Linked DNA regions of Homo sapiens: region 2 is linked to region 1. Evidence: fine-mapped expression QTL. A gene starts in region 1. The other region holds a variant in brackets. All regions are shown on one strand. Distances are from middle to middle.

Region 1 (5,389 bases):
TGTAAAAATTCTGCATTCTACAATTAAATGACTTTGTAGAAGGCTTAGAGCAGACATACAAATCAATTAAGGGATTGCAAACATGCTGGAGAAATGTAAACATATTTTTTATATGTCAACTTAGGCTTTTTATATATTTAGTGAAAAGACCCACATAGAACTTGAAATAAGCTACAGCAACAATGATTTAGGCTAGATAGAAGAAAGGATGCCTGGGGGTGGTGCTGTAAAATTGCCTCTGAAAGTCATTGGTTGGGACAGTTTCATTATGATCATTTGAGTACAAGGATATAAATTAGAAAAGCTGTTTTCTAGCCCTATTTTTAAAGAAACATCAGATTAAAATTAATATAATTATTAGCATATGGATTGATTTTCTTGACATAAACATCAAATATAATAAAATAGTCATAAAGCAAGTTACTACTGTAAAGTGTTTATTGAAGGCATACTGATTTGATTTTTTTTTAAAGTTAGGATTTTTTTCCCCACATAATTAACATTGGTGACAGTTTTACCTTTTTTTTTTTTTTTTTTTAAATTAGAGGAACTGCAAATTTCTGTCTGCAAAGCACCCTTCTACTGGACATGTTCATACTTCATTATGCATAATTATTATGGGAGGGCAGGATGATGGGATAAAAAGGTATCTGAATTATGAATCAGGGCACTGTGGTTCTGCTGTCCTCTCTTCTATTAGCTAGAGGTGTGACCTTGGACAGGTCACTTTTAAATCCCATTTCTCAGCTTCTTGTAGACAACCTCAAGCCATTGTTAGAGGAGACCATCTCTTATGTTCTTTCCTTCTCTGAAATTCCATTTGGAGATTTTAATTAAATCATAATTTAGATAAGTCAGTATTTTATCTTCCACATATATAAAAAGTAGATTCTTTTTCTCATATTTAAGAAGTTTTAACACAAATTGTCAGTGAATAGTTAAAATTTATCAATATAAGTTATTCTAGCATAAAATTTGAGAATAGCTAATATAGCAGATGGTCACCTTGTACTATATAAAAACTTATAATGAAAACAGTTACTTCATTTCTTATGATCCAACTGTCAAAATAGCTCTCCATCTTTCACTTAGTATATTTTGTATTCATCTAATAGATTTGAAAATGTACATGAATATTTCTTCCCTTTATGTACCATTTTATTTCTATAAAATGATGAATTTTATTATAAATATTCAGAAATATAACAGTATCTTATGCATTATAAGTCCACACTTTTTCGGTCATTACTAAACTTCTTTTCTAATATATTGTACATTTAAACATTTAAGATTACCTTGAAGAGACTACAGTCAGGTGGAAATGTAATTTTACGATTACATAAGTAAGGACACAAACAGTTTCCATATGACTGGAGTGATTTCTGGCTGCCTTAAAAGAGTTATAATGAGTGTCAGTGTCATTGAGATTGACTTCAGTTATTCAAAATATTACACAAAATGTGACCGGAGCAAGCAGTGAATCCAGGAAAATTAATATAAACTAAATTCGATTCCGACATTTAAATTTCCAAAACTCAGATTAAATACTATTTAGGACAGAAATAATTCCTGAAATTTCACGTGTTTACTTTTTTTTTTTAAATGAACCTTTTAAGCTGTACAGGAGAAGCTTGACATATGATTGAAACTGGCTTGGGTAAAATAATAAGAAATTCAATCTTCGTAGTTTTAAATGAGACACAAAATACTCTTTGGAGACTGATTATTAAGCACAAGTCACTCGGGTGCTTTCTACTCTCCCTGTTGGCAAAGGAAGGTAGGGGAGGAATTCATTTACACCTCACACTGATGTGTGAGAAAATGTATTTGTTTCACGTTATGCCAAGAAATAGGAAAACTGATCCGACAGCTCAATTAATAAATAAGTTAAACGTAAAAAGGGATAAAAATAAAATCTTACTTTATGGAGGAAAAGAGTTAAATCTATATGGAGCCTGTTTTAGAACTGACAGTTTGCTAAAACGAATTGACTCAGAATTTTCTACTTATCAAACATTTTCCACTTCTGATTTTATGGCTTTGCTCTAAAACCTAGGAAGTCACCAACTCCGTGCAAGATGCTAACATTTATCTCAATCTTTCTGCCTCTTCAAAGACCGCCTCAAAGCATAAAGATAGTCCATAGCGTCTTACCTAGACAACGAGGAGCTGAAACGCCAAGGCATGACACTGCTCAACACTCAGGCTAGGAAAGAAGTCCGTCCCCGTTAGTTTCTCCAAAATCTAAGTTCCCATTTCGTGGTTGAGATCATGGCTCTATTCTGAGCAGTTTCACGCAGTGTGTGAGTCTAACAAAAACACCCTCTGCAGCTGGAGGGAGCCTTAGCTAAGGCAGGATCCTGTCAAGGCATTCCTAGTGACTTCTGTCTACTAAATTCAGACTGAGGTTTTGCAAAAGGGGCCTCCACAACCAGGCCCAGATTGCCTGGAAAGTATTTCCTGCCTCTGAGGAGTGTGCATGCTAGAAAGGCTGTACGAAGAGAGGGGAGGAGGGGAGAGCCCAGCCGCCTGGGCGTTTTAGGAGTTCTGATTTTACACAGAACTCAAGTGAGTTTTGTCAAAGCTCTTGAGGTGATTAGCTGTAGAGTCATAAAGTCCTAGAGCTTTTTCTATCCCACACTGCTTATGAAAAAAGAAAGAAAGAAAGAAAGAAAACGTAGTTTTCTCTCTATCCACAACCTTTCCACTATATTAAATGTATATGCACAGCTTAATCAAAATGCCTGTGCTTGCTCTCATTTCAAAAGATCTTTTAAGAGAGCAAGATGAATTTAGCCTTAATACCATAATTCTTCTAAATGGCAAAACCTTTTTTGAACATGACTTAAAATTGGAAATGCTGCAGCTTTTCATTCTGTCCCTGAGACCATCTGTAAGTAAAATCCCAAGCATCCAGTTAATAGAACGATTTCTTCCAGATCTCTCTGATCACAAGAATCCTTCACAGAATTAAAATAGTTCGTGTTATGGCAAATGCAGCAGCGCATTACCTCTAGTCAGAATCCTCCAGTTACAAAAATCCAGTGCTGGAGCAGAAGACAGGCTCCATCTTGATCGTATTAGAGTCTTGCTGACATTAAACACTTACAACTGCTTCCATCTAGCATGGCAGCGTTCCTGAATCACATCTCTAAAGCCGCTCATGGTATCTGCATCCTTCGTCCGTCACAAATTTTGTGAACTATCATCTGTTTATCTTTTCTGCTTTCTTGTGCCTCCCTTGAATGACTTCCTCCTAGCTGCTCCAGGTTGGGAATTTGGACTACCATTTGGTTTTGATTAAAACCAGACAGGCAACTCTGGAGAATTTAGGGAATAAGCTAATGGAAACTGCAAGTATGGCTTTAATTAGTGCATCAATTAATAATAGATGTTAGCTCGTCTTATAATAAGATATCACAAATACAAACACAGAGGAAGCTGAAGTCGTTTCAGGAAAAAAGTTACACCAATTTTCCTTCCTTTATGACCCAGAATCCTCTTTAGAGAATGTGGAAGGAAAGAAGAGGGAGGTGGTTTTGGGACATCCAGGCTGTGGAGAGGCCAGTAGAGCAGCTTCATTGTTTATACCAGGGAAGCAGGAAACAGCATCTCTGACTTTAATTATCTTGCTTGGTGGAAATGGCTCAGTCATGTCTCCCTTCTACTTTATTTACAATCAATGGATTTCGCTGCTATTTATGACTCAAGCATTTTTTTGGGGGGGGACTGATGATCAGATTAATTATTAGGTCTATCTGCTTCTTGCAAATTTCTAGAAGCTTTCAATAATAGGAAGTGCAAGAATAATTCCAGTTGGATGTGATAAAATGAGTAACATATAAAGAGGTAAAAGACATCTTAAACTTGTTGGCCCTAAGATCTATCCTGTTCTTCTCTGAAATTGTAAGTAGTTTTCATTGTTCACTGTTATTCTCCATCCCTGTATATCACAAGGGCTATCTTGTAGTACTTTTTGATAATATTGGGTAGGTGATAACTCAAAGATGCACAAGGTTCTAACTACTATTTTTTTCCTTATTAGGTAGCTAAAATCTCTCAAAGTTAATGCAAATCATGAACCATATTAGACCCATGTTAGATGGCAAGAATGACTTATACTGTGCATGAGTTTGAAGATGAGAAGTAGTCAAATAAAAACGTTTGGTCAGAAGCAGCTTTAAAAGTTTAGATCAAAGTCTTATTGACTAAAAACATGAGCATTTAGGTTTCTTTAATTTAATCTTCAACCATAGGCCAAGAAAGAAGTCTGTTCTTCCATAAATTCTTTAAAAAGTATTTATATTTATATTCAAAGTGTTTCTACTGACAGTATGCCTATTTAATCTTTCCAACAATTTTGCGTGTATTCATATGTTTTATTTTACAAATAAAGTATTGAGAAGCAATTTTCTCACAGTCAAATGATACAAAGTGCCCAGGTCCACACTGGAACTCAGATATTCTAGCTCCAAGCTTTGTGCTTTAATTTTTTCTCCATAAACTGCCTTCCTTGACTTCCACTTAATTTCTTTATTAAATTGGGAAGACTTCTTAAACTCTAATAGTTTCTCTTTAAAAATAGAGACAATTTCACATAACTTATAGATTGGAAAGCAGGATGAAATTTATATGCAGAAATATTTGTGTATTTATGTTTATTTCCCTAAGAAAAACACTGGAGAAGAAAGGAATGAGAACTGATATTATGTCTTTCCTAATATAACTTGATATCTCTATCTCTGTCACTGCCTTTAGTACTGATATACAGTGGTTACTCAATATTATATCAGCATCATGCTAATTCTTAGCTACATTTTATTCATGAATACTGTACCCCGCGCCATATACTTTAGTTTTGTTTCTATTTCTATTGGCTTGGGAAAACAAGAAAACTCTGTTCACAAATGCCTTTTAGATATCTAGAAACTCTTGTTAGTAAGTTTCTCATAAACATACCCTTTTCTACACAAAAAATACATTATGTTTTCTTCTATTAATAGGATTACTTCCCAAATCTTTAATTACTTATATTTATTTTTCATTGTTGAGTTGCTTGATTCCAAACAAATCTCAGATCTTATAGTCTTATAAAGGCTTTACCAAATATGAGTGTAAAGATAAATAGTGAGAAAACTTCCTAAGTACTTAGTATTGTGTCAGGAACACTGAAGGAGTTCAAAATATTTGTCCCCTTCTTTCTACTTGCAAATCTAAATACCAACTTCCTTAAATGTTTGACTGTTACTCTGTACTGGATCAGCTAATCAAATAAGGGGACAGGGACAGTTAAGAACTTGAAAACAAAGTATCAGGATAGGAGTCTGCTCCAAAACTAACAGCTTTTGTGACCTGTGTGAGTTACCTAACCGGGGTGAGGATGTCTTAG
Region 2 (5,389 bases), 150 kb before region 1:
TGATGTGACATTTGTCTACAACAGCAATCATAAGGGTAGTTTCATGACATCCAAGAATGCTTCCAGTTACTGAAGAAATCTTGCAAAATCATTTAAGGAATTTTCAAAGTATACTTAATTGCTTGTTATATATAATAATGACATAAAATGATATAAAATAAAATGAATAGGAACCATACTATGATTTCACCAGAGAAGTTGGGTGGTGTCATAAAGTTAAGCGATGAGATGTGATTGTAACTTTGAACAGGTTGGAAGTTATTTAAGTTCTCATGCTATTCAGGCCATTATGGAATGAAAATCATAAATGTTCAGGATATTGCAGATGCATTTACACTTGACAGGGTTTGACAGAAATGAGACACTTGTTAATAAGATTTATAAAGAGCTACTCCATCGACATTTTAAAAGTGAGTATGTTGGATTCCGCATTATAGTATTTATAAAGCTTTCCACACAACTGGGTAGAATTCTTTCTTTGCCTATCCCCACAGGAGACAGACAAGCTGGGTTCAAGCAAGCTGAGTTTCCTTGAGACATTAATTTCATGTGTCTGAGTTCTAGTTTCCTCTTCTGTAAAATGAAGATAATACCTGCCTGGTTGTACTATTTTGAGAATTAAATAAGGTAATGTACATAAAACACTCAGTACAGAGCTCTACACAGAACGAACACTCAATAGACCAGCCTGCACATTAGAATCACATGGAGAAATTTAATATCTACCACTGCCAGGGCCTCACTGCAAACCAACTGAAATCAGAAATGTATTAGGGAGCATATATTGGTATTATAAAAGCCCCCCACGAGATTATCACTGTAGCCAGGGTTGCAAACCATTGATCTAAGCTACCCATTTCCTCTACTAGTAGTTCTTAACCATGGCTGCACATTGACATCACCTGGGAAACTTAAAATACTGATGCCTGGGTTTCTGTTTCTGATTTAATTGATACAGCGCTGGGCTTGGGCATTGGGATTGTTATAAATTCTCCAGTTAATCCTAATATGCTGGAGGTTGAGAACCACTGAGAATCAGCAAGGAAAGACTTACTCTGTGTTTTTTGGTTGCATAGTGTGATTTTTTTTTCTTTTATAAATAATGTAATTTTCTGATCATACAAGTAATCCATGTCTTAGAAAATATGAAATGTAGAAAACAATGAAAAAAATAAAAAATAAAATTCATAATCTTACTACCCACATACAAACATTGTCAACAGTTTGGTTTGTTTCCTTCTTTCAATGCTAATTGTTTTGCATGGCTGGGCTCATGTTTTATACACATTATTTTTTTTTTTTCTTTTTCACCTTAATATTAGAAAACAAGTATTTTCCTTTTCTTAAAGAGACAATATTGGCTGGCTGCAGCGGCTCATGCCTGCGATCTCAATACTTGGGGAGGTTGAGGCGGGCAGAATGTTTGAGCTCAGGAGTTCAAGTCCAGCTTGGGCAACATGGCGAAACCCTGTCTCTACAAAAACATACAAAAAGTAGCTGGGTGTGTTGGCATGTGCCTGTAGTACCAGCTGCTCAGGAGGTTGAGGTAGGAGGATCACCTGAGCCAGGGAGGTTGAGGCTGCAGTGAGCCTTAATTATACCACTGCACTCCAGCCTGGGCGACGGAGTGAGACCTTGTCTCAGAAAAACAATACAAAACAAAACGAGAGAGAGAAAGAAACAGGATTTTACCCTGTCGTGCAGGCTGGAGTGAAATGGTGCAAACATCTTAATAGCTCACTGTAGCCTCGAACTCCTGGGCTCAAGCAATCCTCCTGACTCAACCTCCTGAGCAGCTGGGACTACAGGGGCATGCTAACATGCTCTGCTAATTTTTTTTTTAATTTCTTTTTTATCTTTTGAGACAAGTTCCTCTATGTTACTCAGGCTGGTCTTGCATTGCTGTTCTCAAGCTATCCTCCCGCTTCAGCCTTTCAAGTAGCTGGGATTACAGGGGTGAGCCACCACGCCCTGCTCCAGTGTAGGTATTTTCAATGTTACTTAATGGACATTTTAGGTATCATTTTAAATAAGTAGAATGTGTTTAAAAAGTCCCCTTTACATATTATTATTTCCTATATTTCAAAGATAGGTCTGGACAAGATATTTATGAACTTTTAGACAAGTTTTCCCTACCAAAATCTAATGTCCCTTCTGTTAGGGTAAGAAAAAGTAGAATCAAGCTTCTTGCTCAAGGAAGAACTGAAAAGGGCTGACAGTAGGCGTTGCTGCCTAACTTCTTATTTAGTACATATATCAATAATCTTCTATAAGTAAGTCATGACATTAGGTGCTGGGCACTGGGCTAAATAGTGATCTGAATGCTAGGCCAAGCTGAGACAGATTTCCCATATAGTCAAGGCAGGAAGAAGAGGAAGGACAGAATTTCCCAAAACCAAAGAAATAAATTCAAAAGTGGAGTCAAAGAGCAGCCAGACACAATAGATGTCAACCACTAAACTTGAGAAAACAGCAGAACTTTCCAGCCTCAGGCTCTGAAGGAGGAAAGTGGGAGCAGTGGCTTAATTGGAACCATTTTGCAAGGCAGAGAGGAGTTGGCACATACTG[G/T]TCTACAGAGTGAGTCTGGGAAGCTGAAGACAACATCTGCAGGGAAGATGACCTCGATGACACTTCATAGGATGTGGAAGCTGAGCAATACAGCTTAGATGACTTACTGGAAGTTCACCAGTAAAACTGGAGAAAGAGCCCAGTGTTTTGGGGACATCATAGAGTCTGGCTTGGAAAAATTTCTTTGACATCTGCCAATGAGGAGGCAGCAAAGCGTGAAATTAGGACATTTGTCTGGTTGCAGTTAGATTCCCGGGCACTCTGTATGGTGGGGATCCAAGTGCCCAATAGTGGAATGATTTTGAGGCAGTGCCTGGAATTAGAGTGAAACTCTTATGTCGGTTAACCTTTCCTGCCTTCATTAGCTCACATCCCTTCCACTCCTGAACGTGGACATCTGTTTCTTGCAATTCATAATTAATGGTCTATTATCTAGTATTGTTGCCTAATTTTTCAATGGATGTTAATCTTGTTACTAAAACAAAACTATAAACAAGGGGGGTGTGGAAGAGGGAAGGGGAACTTGTATTATATTTACAATAAAACTCAAATTTACCATAATCTCTGTCTCTGGTGTCTGCATCAGCCACACTGGCCCCTTCCCGTTCTCTAAGCATTCTACTGTCTTTCCTGTCTCAGGGCCTTTGCCCCGGATATTTCCTGTTTAGAATTCTCTTCTGTTTTGTTTTGTTTTTTTCCAACCACATGGCTGGCTTCTTCTCATCACTTAAGTGTTCCAGCATCCTAGAGAGGCCTTTCCAGACCATCCTACCAATGTTACTCCCCACATCTCTGTTTTCTCGATTACATCTTTCTATTCCCTTATCACAATGCGTGCATTCATTTATTCAGTAATTGTGCATTACCCTTCTACTGTGTGCTAGATATGGGCATACAATATTGGTCTTTGCCATCACAGAGCCTACACTTTGTGGGGGATGTAAACATTAATGAGACAAACATCACACAAATATTTGTAAATTACTAATTCTGTTAATGTCTACACATGAGAGCCCATGGAACTAACCTGAAAGTATTTCTGTATTTTAATTTGGATTTCTTTGTAGTTTGTTATCTTTCTGCCACTTGTATATTTGCTCCCTGAGGGCAGAGTCATTGCTTTCTGTCTGTTTCTGCACTGTGTTCTCAGAGCATGCATATTGTGGAGACTTAGTATATGTCATTGAATACGTGAATGCTAAGCATTTGCAGTGTTTTTTTTTTTTTTTTAAACTTTATGGTGTCCATCAGAACCTAGCATTATGCCTGTTTAATTGATTAACAACATTGAAGCTCAGATAACAAATTGGTCTCAGGTCATAAAGCTGGTGACAGAAGTGGAAACTGAACCTAGCTCTTTTTCCAAAAGTTATTGTTCTGTCTATTACACAGAAGGCATGAGAGAGGTGAAGAGCAAATTATTGTAAATTGTTTTACAATAATATAGAACCTAAAGTCATTGGTTAAGGTATTTTTACATGTTCTCCCCCATAAAATTGAAAACAAACAAAAAAAACCAAAAGGAAAAAAATCACCAGCATGCAAAAATATCCTACAACTTTATTTTCCATTGTAGGTCCAGCAAAATCTAAGGTCGCCAAGCATGCTGAAACATTTCTCAGTATTTGGTGATTGCAAAACTGGATTTCATTTGGATCTTAGATTTGGTACCAAAATGATAACTGGAGCCATCAAGAACAAAAGCTGTATGCTTGTGTGCCATTTGCTTTACTTGGCTAAAGAAAACCAGGTATAAAGGTACACACTCCCTTAACTCTTTCTACGCTCTAAGAAGCTCTTTGAAATGTGAAATTCCTACAGTGGTTTCTTTGTTTGTTATAACTTGAGTGATAGCAGGGAGAGGTAGGGGTGTGTGTGTATGTGTGTGTGTGCGCACGTGCACACGCATGCATGTGACTTCAGCTTTAGAGAAAAGAGGCAGGAGAATGAAAGAGAGAAAGGAGTTCAAGGAAAGCCAGAGAACAACTAAGAAGAAGATTTCTTGTCCAGATTCTTCAGTAACACACTGAACTCTACATAGAATGTCAGCCCATCACCTTCCTCTTCAGATCTGCTTACCTAGTTTGCTCCCTCTTCGTAGTTAAAGCTATTTTTAAGTTTCCAGTTCTCTGGGTAATGAAACTTTTTTTTTTTTTTTTTAGATGGAATCTTGCTCTGTTGCACAGGTTGGAGTGCAGTGGCATGATCTTAGCTCACTACAATCTCCATCTCCCAGGTTCAAGCCAGTCTCCTGCCTCAGCCTCCTGAGTAGCTGAGATTACAGGCATGTGCCACCACGCCAGGCTAATTTTGTATTTTTAGCAGAGACAGATTTCTCCATGTTGCTCAGGCTGGTCTCGAACTCCCAACCTCAGGTGATCCTCCCGCCTTGGCCTTCCAAAGTGCTGGGATTACAGGTGTGAACCACCACAGCAGGCCTGCATAATGATACTTCTATCTCCCCTTTTGTTTACTGACCCTACATACTGGTACATGAACCATGCAAGCACATAAGCTTACATGGATTCCCTTTTTTGGACTAGGAATAGGTGATTTTTAAAATTATCACATGCTATAGACATCTTTGTCAGCCTTTCAAAGACCAATCAAAACCAAACTTTTCCCCTAACTTAGTAAAAACATGTATATTTTAAGGAAAGTCGTCTCATATTTCTAACTCATTTACCCACAAACCATCAAAACAATAAAAATAAATTGCCAACTAAGAAACTCATTTGAGTTTATTAAAATATAATTGCAATGTTTGTTTTCTGTCCTTAAAAGGACCCTCATCTTTTGCCAAGGATTAAATTCTTGGTAT

Alleles and levels. Alleles are on the strand shown, and positions count from the first base shown. SD is a standard deviation of normalised expression in the study named.
With allele T in place of G in region 2, the expression in fibroblasts of the gene that starts at base 2,404 in region 1 is higher (moderate effect, 0.48 SD a copy in GTEx).

The links.
Region 2: its variant is fine-mapped to the expression of DLC1 in fibroblasts (GTEx, PIP above 0.99).

What each region holds. Positions count from the first base shown.
Region 1 is chr8:13,512,448-13,517,836 of GRCh38, forward strand. It overlaps DLC1 (DLC1 Rho GTPase activating protein), which reads right to left and starts at 2,404. Exons shown (of 18, transcript NM_182643.3): 1 at 2,155-2,404.
Region 2 is chr8:13,359,590-13,364,978 of GRCh38, forward strand. The region is part of intron 4 of DLC1 (DLC1 Rho GTPase activating protein); the gene reads right to left. Among named protein-coding and RNA genes, the nearest start is that of DLC1, 150 kb to the right of the region's middle. The variant G/T (reference allele first, on the strand shown) is at 2,569.